Homo sapiens: one gene and its partner. The protein of the gene in region 1 interacts with the protein of each later gene in a biochemical or structural test. Each region holds a gene or a part of one and is shown in the gene's direction. Other genes may lie near its edges.

Region 1 (3,808 bases):
GAGGGTTTTGTGCTGGGCACTGGGACTGCAGGGTGGACAAGTCCAGTTGGAACAGCCAGGATCCCCCCATGCTGTTTACCCAGTTCCCTGGGAACAGAGACTGAGGGGCAGGGTGTGGGCATGTGGGAGGAGCCACCTGCTGGCTCCATATGGTGGTCTACCCACCAGCACCAGCAGCAGCCCACCCAGCCTGATGCCAGGAGGGGCTCAGCAGAGAAGGTGGGGAGGTGGGAGGGTCTTGTGCAGGCATGCGGCTTTGGGGAGGCCATTCATGTGACTCTTGTTTTAGCCCCCTTGGGTGGAGCACAGGGCTGGGTGGCCAAGTGCTCACTCTGTGTGCAGTATCTGGGTTAATTCCTATGTCAGTTCGTAACCCCCTTATGCAGACGAGGCTAGGAGAGGTGAAGTCTGTATCCAAGGTCACACTGCTAGTGAGAGGCAGAGGTGGGACTGCGCCTGTGCCTATCAAGTCCATGGCCCCATGGGGCACCATCTCTTTGAACAAGGAGCCACAGCTTTCCTGGGCCCCGGGCAGGCGATGTTGGTGGTGGGTGGGTGATGTTGGCGTCTCCTTTACCCTCTCTGGCCCGGTCTGCTGCCTCCAGGTACAAAGGCTTCATCAAGGACTGCCCCAGTGGGCAGCTGGATGCGGCAGGCTTCCAGAAGATCTACAAGCAATTCTTCCCGTTCGGAGACCCCACCAAGTTTGCCACATTTGTTTTCAACGTCTTTGATGAAAACAAGGTGAGCTGGGGATTGATGGGGCCTGCGGCAGCTGGCTCAGCTCCTGTGGGTACCCGCAGCGTCTCCACACCCACTCTCTCCTGCCGATGTTCCCTTCTAGAGAAGGAACACACACACGAGTGCATACTGACATGCACAGATACATAGTCGCACATAAATGCATGCACATGTACACATGCAGACACACAATAAACACAGATGCATCCAAATGCATGCACATGTGTGCACACATATGTACACCCACACATGTACTGACATGCACATCCAAGCTCTCACACAGACGTGTATGTGCACATGCAGGCGAATACCATGCACACATGTGGGCACACATACATGGAGATGCAGCCACACACGTGAACATACATGTATATTCATACAGTGCACAGAAATGCACACATATGCACACAATGCATGGACTTGCAGGTGCACACACGTGTACACACAGAGAGACATATACACATATGCATATGTATACAGTGCACAACACACATGCATGTATACACATGTACACCCTGACACTTCTCTTACAAGCATAAAATGCAAATACCTCCCATGATAATAACAGGATTAATAATAATAACCAATATTTCCTGAACATTTACTATGTTTAAGCTCTTTACATGGATTTTTTTTTTTTTTGAGACAGAGTCTTGCTCTGTTGCCGAGGCTGGAGTGCAGTGGTGCAGTCTCAATTCACTGCAACCTCTGCCTCCCAGATTCAAGCAATTCCCCTGCCTCAGCCTCCTGAGAAGCTGGGATTACAGGCGCCGTCACCACACCTGGCTAATTTTTGTATTTTTAGTAGAGATGGGGTTTCACCGTATTGCCCAGGCTGGTCTTGAACTCCTGACCTCAGATGATCCACCCACCTTGGTCTCCCAAAGTGCTGGGATTTCAGGTGTAAGCCCCCTTGCCCGGCCATACATGGATTATTTTTAATGAGGCCTTACAAGCACCTGGGAGCTGGGTATTTTAATACCCATTTTGTAGGTCAGGAAACTGAGGCTCTGAGAATCGTAGGCTATAGGATCTTTTGTTCCTGGCGTTTTCCACTGAGCATCATGTTTTCAAGACTTACCATGTGGTAGCTTGTGTCACCTCCGGGCAGTGGCTGCACGGATAGCTGTTGGGTTATCTGCGATGACCCTGATTCTGTCCTGCAGTAGCATTTGAGGGTGGATTTACTGCCACTTGTCTCTGTACCCCCTGCTGCTGGCACCGTGGAGGTTTCTATTCTATCCCATCCCCAGCTTCTCCCAGGTGCCCCCAGGCTGGGAGTCACATGCCTGACCCTGGGAAGGGCTCTTCCCTTCTTGGGCCTCGGTTTCTTCATTTGCAAATAAGAGGTGGAATTAAACAACCTGCAGCGGCCTTTCCTCTGCAAAAGCCCATGAGCCCACAGCTCTAGGCCGAGGGGCTTCCGGGCTGTTGCTGAGAGGAGCTCAGGCATTGGTGCTTCTGGCACCTTCTCCCATCAAGAGTGGAGTAAGCCTCTCCGTTCAGCCTCAGTCCTTCTTCCTGTGCCTCCCTCCTGGCCTCTCCCACTTCTAACCCCCCACACAGTCCCCCAGCCTCTGCTCCCCACCCTCTCCTTGCCTCTCGCCCCCCATTCCTTCGAGCCTGCCCTCTCCACCTGAGTGTCCATTGGCCACAGTGTCTGGAGCCTGCGACTGCCCCTCGCCCGTCCCGAGGTTCAGCCTGACCCGGTGGCCTGGCCGGCACTGACTGAGGCAATCCCCTCTCTCTCCTGTCAGGACGGGCGAATTGAGTTCTCCGAGTTCATCCAGGCGCTGTCGGTGACCTCACGGGGAACCCTGGATGAGAAGCTACGGTGTAAGTCCTGCCCCCTTGGCCCTGTGTGGCAGCAGCTGGAGGGCCCAGGTCAGAGGGAGGCAGCCCTCGGCCCTCACCAGGCAGGGGTGCCAGACACCCACTGCAGTGACCACAGATGGCGTCCCAGCTGTGTCTGCAGAGGGCAGGCCTGGGCCCTGGGCAGGTGGCCCTCACACGGCCACGTAACTAGGCCAGGCTGACTGTCCAGGGTTCAGAGAGCAGCGCAGACATCTGTGCTTCCAGGTGGGAGGGTTTCCTGGAGGCACCGGCAGCAGGAAGGAGCTCGCTGAGGCAGGTGGACAGGGAGGGCTGGGGGCAGAGGCTGGCAGGAGCCTTGGCTGCACTCGGGCAGGTGCAGACTTGGGCCGCAGGAGGGTCGGTGGGGACCCAAGACCCAGGTTCAGTGCCGGACCCACCTCTTTCATAGCCATTGCTTTGATTCTTGCTTTCAGTCATTCACTTACTCACTCATTCATTGACCAAATAACGACTGAATGCAGCCACGTGTTGGTACCAGGGATCCACTGGGGGATAAGATAGATGGGTCCCTGCTCTCAGGGCGATCAGTCTAGAGTGGCAGCAGGATTTAAAAAAAAACCTCAGGAAACTGCAGGCAAGGAGGAGAGAGGGAGTTGTGAGCAGGAGAGGACCTGCCTGGTAGGCGCAGAGCTGGGGATGAGAGGAGCTGGGGATGAGAGGAGCTGGGGAGGGGGCGTTAAGGGCTCCAGCCAGGGGGCCCGCGTGTGCGAGGCCCAGTGGAGGGAGGCTGAGAGGGAGTTGGGAGGGGAAGCTGTGCAGGCCCCTGGCGGCATTAGGAGGAATGCAGGGTGCGTGGAGGGGAGGGAAGATGGAAACCAGCTGGCCAGAACTCCCTGCTCAGTAAGACTTTCACACTTCAGTCCATCGGCAGCAAGAAGACCCTGCAGTTTCTTTTTCTTTTTCTTTCTTTCTTTTTTTTTTTTTTAAGAAATAAAAGAGAACTTTATTTATGCAAAAGCTCCTCCTCTCAATGCACTATTTTATTTTCTAATGTTGACTGTAGCAGGCCACACCATAATTGTGGGAGCAGAGTGGACTGTGGGGAGGAGGTGGGGGCTGGAGTTGGGGGAAGGAGAGGGGTGCTCCTCTGGGTAACATCCCAGGCCCCGGGCTCTCCCACGCACTCAGCTCCAGCCACTGATACCTCGGCCCTGGCAGCCCAATGCCCCATCCCTTTATTTTATTTGTTTAT
Region 2 (4,582 bases), on another chromosome or scaffold:
TAATTAATAATAAAGTACTATAGTAGCAACTTGTACTCTCTTGATCCTAACAAAACCCTGTAATGGGCTAATATTACTTCATCCATATGTCTTCTTTGTAGACATAGAAACTGAGGTTTAAAGAGGTTACATTAGTTATTCCAAATCAAACGGCTTGTAAGTGGCAGGGAAGATGGCATTCAAGACCCGGGCTCAAATAACTAGCCTCAATGTATTAAGTAAGGCACTAATGAGGGGCATTGCATATTAAGTAAAGCCCTAGGAAAGGCATTGAGATAGAGGTTCTGAGGACAAAGAGGGCTCTAAATCAACAATCTTAACCGAAAAATACACAAAAAACTTGCTGGGCGAGGTCGGGCCTATAATCCCAGCACTTTGGTACCTGAGGCCGGCAGATTGCTTGAGGCTAACAGTTCGAGACAAGCTTGGGCAACATAGCAAGACCCTGTCTTTACAAAACAAACAAACAAACGAAAAATACACAAAAGCAACACCAGAGGCCCATTTGCATGGCGTGTTTTTGTTTATTTGTTTGGCCTAATATGGTTTCGTTTTGTTTGGAAGAAGGGATTGTGCCCTCCAAGCCTTTGTCGTTTCACTCACCTCTCCCAACCTGGCCCTGTCCAGCCCCTCCCTGGAGGGCTGGGCATATGGATGCTGGAGGTCACAGGCTGCCCAGGCAGGTTGGTGACCTCGGAGGCAGAACCACGGCCTCGAGTCGGGCCTCTAACGGCGAAAAGACTGACGCGGTTGGACCGCGCCATTCCCGAAATGTTAAGGAGCTTAAACTCCGCATCGTCCTCCAAGATAAGTAGGAAAAGGGCAGTCAGAAAGAACGTCTTCCCCGTCCGCCGTCTTCCTGCGCGCCCTTCTAGGAACCCAGCGTCCATCCCACGGCCTGATTTACTAAGGGAGTCTTGTAGCATACGGGAGGGGGAAAAGTCATTGATTGCAATTACGGTAATTTGGTTAGTTACTCAAACGGTCGTTTACATATAACTTGCATGTTAATATACTTCTGGAAGTATGCATATGTCCATACTTCTTTAACAGGGCACCCACGGCCGCCTGCTCACCCTACTTATGCAGCAAATTTTACTTCTCTCTCGGCTTCTTTAGCCTCGCAAACGCTATCGCTTAGGTCCGCTTCTTAAATATTGGCCCCTCCTCCCACCCGTAAGCTCCTCCCTTCGCCCTCTCTCCCTCGAGAGCTTCCAAACATCTTTTCCCCGCCCCCTTTTCTATTTCTGAACAGGCATGTTCCAGGCAGCTCACCCGACTCCTTAGATTACTATGGAATCGGTAGGGTCCTGACCGCTGGGGAAGCAGGAAAGCGTATCCTGGGAAGAAAGGCTTGGCTTGGACTCCGGAGAAGAATACTACATCGAGACCTGCTGGGGAATTTTATTTTATTTTATTATTTTTTTGGTCTTGGTTGTACTGAGGGAGGAAGAAGAGGTTGTGTGGCCCGGTCGAACTTGTGGCAGCCTGAAGGCCCCCTCAGGCGGCGCCGCGGGCAGCCCCGCAGCCGGGGCCTGGTGCAGCCTCCGCGGCCGCTGTCAGGGAAGCGCAGGCGGCCAATGGAACCCGGGAGCGGTCGCTGCTGCTGAGGCGGCAGTGTCGGCAGTCCAACCGCGACTGCCCGCACCCCCTCCGCGGGGGTCCCCCAGAGGTAAGCTACTCCTCCTTCATGAGTCACCTTTGCCCTGTTGGGTGGGGGGGGGGGTCCCTCTCCCACCCTGTCCCGCACAGTCTTCCCCACCTGAGTTCGACTACGAAACTGCCCTCTTGGTGTCAGCTGCACCCCGGGTTCCTTCTCCACCCTTTCCTCTCAGGCCTGGGGTCCTCCTCCGCTTTTTGGCTTCCTCTTCTATTAGCTCCTCCCTCTGCCTCGGGGATTCCCCCCTCCCTCACTCATCCCTGTTGCCTACGTCTCGAATAATTCTTTTTTTTAAGTCATGAACCCTTTCCATATCAGACGACTCCCATAATGCCCATCCTTGTCCTTCCTCGTCGTCTCTGCCCCTGCCCCAAACCTTTTCCATGGACTCCACCTTTATCTCTTTTCCTAGTTTGCACTTTTCCTCCTATGTCCCTGTGCAACTCCAGCACTGGGTTCCCATTTCCCTGAGCTAAAGATTGCATCCCTGTCTTCCTGTGCTGCTTCTGATTCCATTACCTCACTGTCACCCACCTACCCAGCCAGCTCCTGGCTTCCAAGAATTGCCTGTTCCCTTCTCCTTAAGGGATCTCGGGCCCTTGTCATCAATCCAAAAGTACCATTTACATTCTTACTTTGAACCTAGTCCTCACTCTTCTCTGGGATGCATTATGATCCCTATAACTTTCTTTAGCTTCTCTTTCTCCCTCCTCAATCCCCCAACTTTCTAGAGGTTTCTGTCTGTAGGGGAGAGATTTGACAGTGCCCTTCCCATTCAGGATTTCCAACTTTGACACCTCCCTCGAGTTTCAGGGATTTCTCTGATCCTTGTGACATTTGTTCTGTTTTTCCCGTGGGCTTCATGTGTTCTCTGTTACACTCTTTATCTCCACATACCACTTATTTCAGGATCAACTAAACCTTGAACTAAGAAGAAAAATGTGTTGTGAGCAGGGGGAGCCTCAGCTGCCTCAGGCCGTTCAGGACAGAAGGGTGTTTCTGAAGGCCGGAGCAAGTTTTGAAGAAGTCCCTATCAGATTACACTTGGTTGACTACTCCGGAGCAGCCACTAAGAGGGATGAACAGGCCTGCGTGGAAATTGAATGAGATTGTGAGAAAACTTGTTTCAGATTATTTAATTTTAGGCTTTTGTTAAAGGAATCACAGAATAGAGTGCCTTCTCACCCCTGTCCAGATCCATGAGGAATCAGTTTATTCTTGTGGTTTACTAGAATAGTTTTGGTTGGTTCCATAAGAATTCAGGCCTGGAGTGGGGTAAGGGTATAACTGGAAAAAGGAACATGAGACAATGGAAAGAGCTTGTACATTCAGAATCGGGACTCCTGGGTTCAGCATGTGACTTCCTCACTTGACCTCTAGAGTGATCCTTTTGGAAAATGCCCACTCTCTGTAGGCATCAGTGCAGTAATAAGTTGGTAGCAGGATGTGGGTTGGGGGAAAAAATCAGATTTGGTTTATTTGTTTACAAAACATTTTGGGTTCCTCAGGCAAAAGGTATTTATTAGTAGTGGTTTAGTCATCCTGAGAATTTTCCTTCACCTTGGTCTTTCTGTCAGATGTTTCTAGTCCACAACCAGGGGTGTAAGTCATTTTGAAAGACAAGCTCCAGGCCTGCTTCCTTCATCTGCTTTGCTTTTTCCCCCAGTGCATTAAGTGGCTGATTTTCTGTCCTGTTCCTCACGTACTTGATCCATAACTCCAGATTCTATAGGTAGAAAGTATGTTTGTGGGAAAGCACTTTGAGGAAGCTGGCTGGAAAAGAGAACTTGGAGTGAACTGAGACTTAGGCAACTAGTTGCTGCCATGTCTCTCTCAGCCTGTGATAGCGAAAGGGCACGTGAGATTCCATTCATTTTCTGATTCTAGGTCTGTTTGGGAGTAGTTATGTCATCTTATCCCACTTCCTTTCTCTTCCTTGTCGTTAGTCATGGTGCAGTCTCCTCATAATTCCCCTTATTAGAAGCTTTCCTGCCAGGCGCGGTGGCTCACACCTGTAATCCCAGCATTTTGGGAGGCCGAGGCAGGCAGATCACCCGAGGTCAGGAGTTCAAGACCAGTCCGGCCAACATGGTGAAACCCCATCTCTACTAAAAATACAAAAAATTAGCCGGGCATGGTGGCGAGCTTCTGTAATCCCAGCTACTCCGGAGGCTGAAGCAGGAGAATTACTTGAACCCAGGAGGCGAAGGTTGCAGTGAGCCGAGATCACGCCACTGCACTCCAGCCTGGGTGACTGAGTGAAACTCTGTCTCAGGAAAAAAAAAAAAAAAAAAGCAGCTTTCCTCCTTGGAAGCATCCCCAACCAGAAATCATATTTCCTCTCATTTCCCTGCTTTCTTCTTAGAGTTGAGTCCACGCTCCATGAGAATGCTGAACACCATCCAAAGCAGCAAATTGAGATTCCTTGATTTGGGGAAGAGGTTTGGGAGGAACCCTTCAATAATTGGCATGGGACAAGAGGGGACCCAGTCCAAGTGTATTTGGGACTCGCAGTAGGGAGGAACAATTCAGAGAGAGGTGAGTGCACAGGCTGCTTTCTTTGCCATCTGTTTCAGTAGCGGCTCCCATAGCTGGCTTGGGCTGTCTGGCTGGAATCTGCTTATACCAGCTCCATGGCTCTGCACAGAGTTCTCAGCCTGAATCAATATTGACTTAACTACCATGAGACCACTGCCCTCCCTACCCTCGTGCTAGTAGCTTGAGAATGCCCTCTCCCCTAATGCCCACACTCTCTGGGCCCTTGTGTCAGCAGTTACCTGGATCCTGGTAGGGCTGGAGCTGGCTTGACTGCCTGGCCCTGAGTTTCTATAAGGAAAAAGGAGTACTCAATCTCTACCTTTACCATTGAGGTCAAAGGGGAGAGATGAGTTGAGACATCCTTAAAGAAAGGTTTGAGTTAGA

The links.
Region 2: the proteins of NCS1 (region 1) and PI4KB form a complex in vitro, tested with the Homo sapiens proteins (one study listed by BioGRID).

Annotation. Positions count from the first base shown.
Region 1 is NC_000009.12:130,217,227-130,221,034, forward strand, and holds part of NCS1 (neuronal calcium sensor 1), read left to right. Parts: intron 1-605; coding exon 606-744; intron 745-2,498; coding exon 2,499-2,577; intron 2,578-3,808. UniProt on the Homo sapiens protein: Neuronal calcium sensor, regulator of G protein-coupled receptor phosphorylation in a calcium dependent manner. Directly regulates GRK1 (RHOK), but not GRK2 to GRK5. Can substitute for calmodulin. Stimulates PI4KB kinase activity.
Region 2 is NC_000001.11:151,324,361-151,328,942, reverse strand, and holds the start of PI4KB (phosphatidylinositol 4-kinase beta), read left to right. Parts: upstream 1-1,526; 5' UTR 1,527-1,672; intron 1,673-2,569; exon of another isoform or gene 2,570-2,763; coding exon of another isoform or gene 2,764-2,771; intron 2,772-4,025; exon of another isoform or gene 4,026-4,198; intron 4,199-4,582. UniProt on the Homo sapiens protein: Phosphorylates phosphatidylinositol (PI) in the first committed step in the production of the second messenger inositol-1,4,5,-trisphosphate (PIP). May regulate Golgi disintegration/reorganization during mitosis, possibly via its phosphorylation.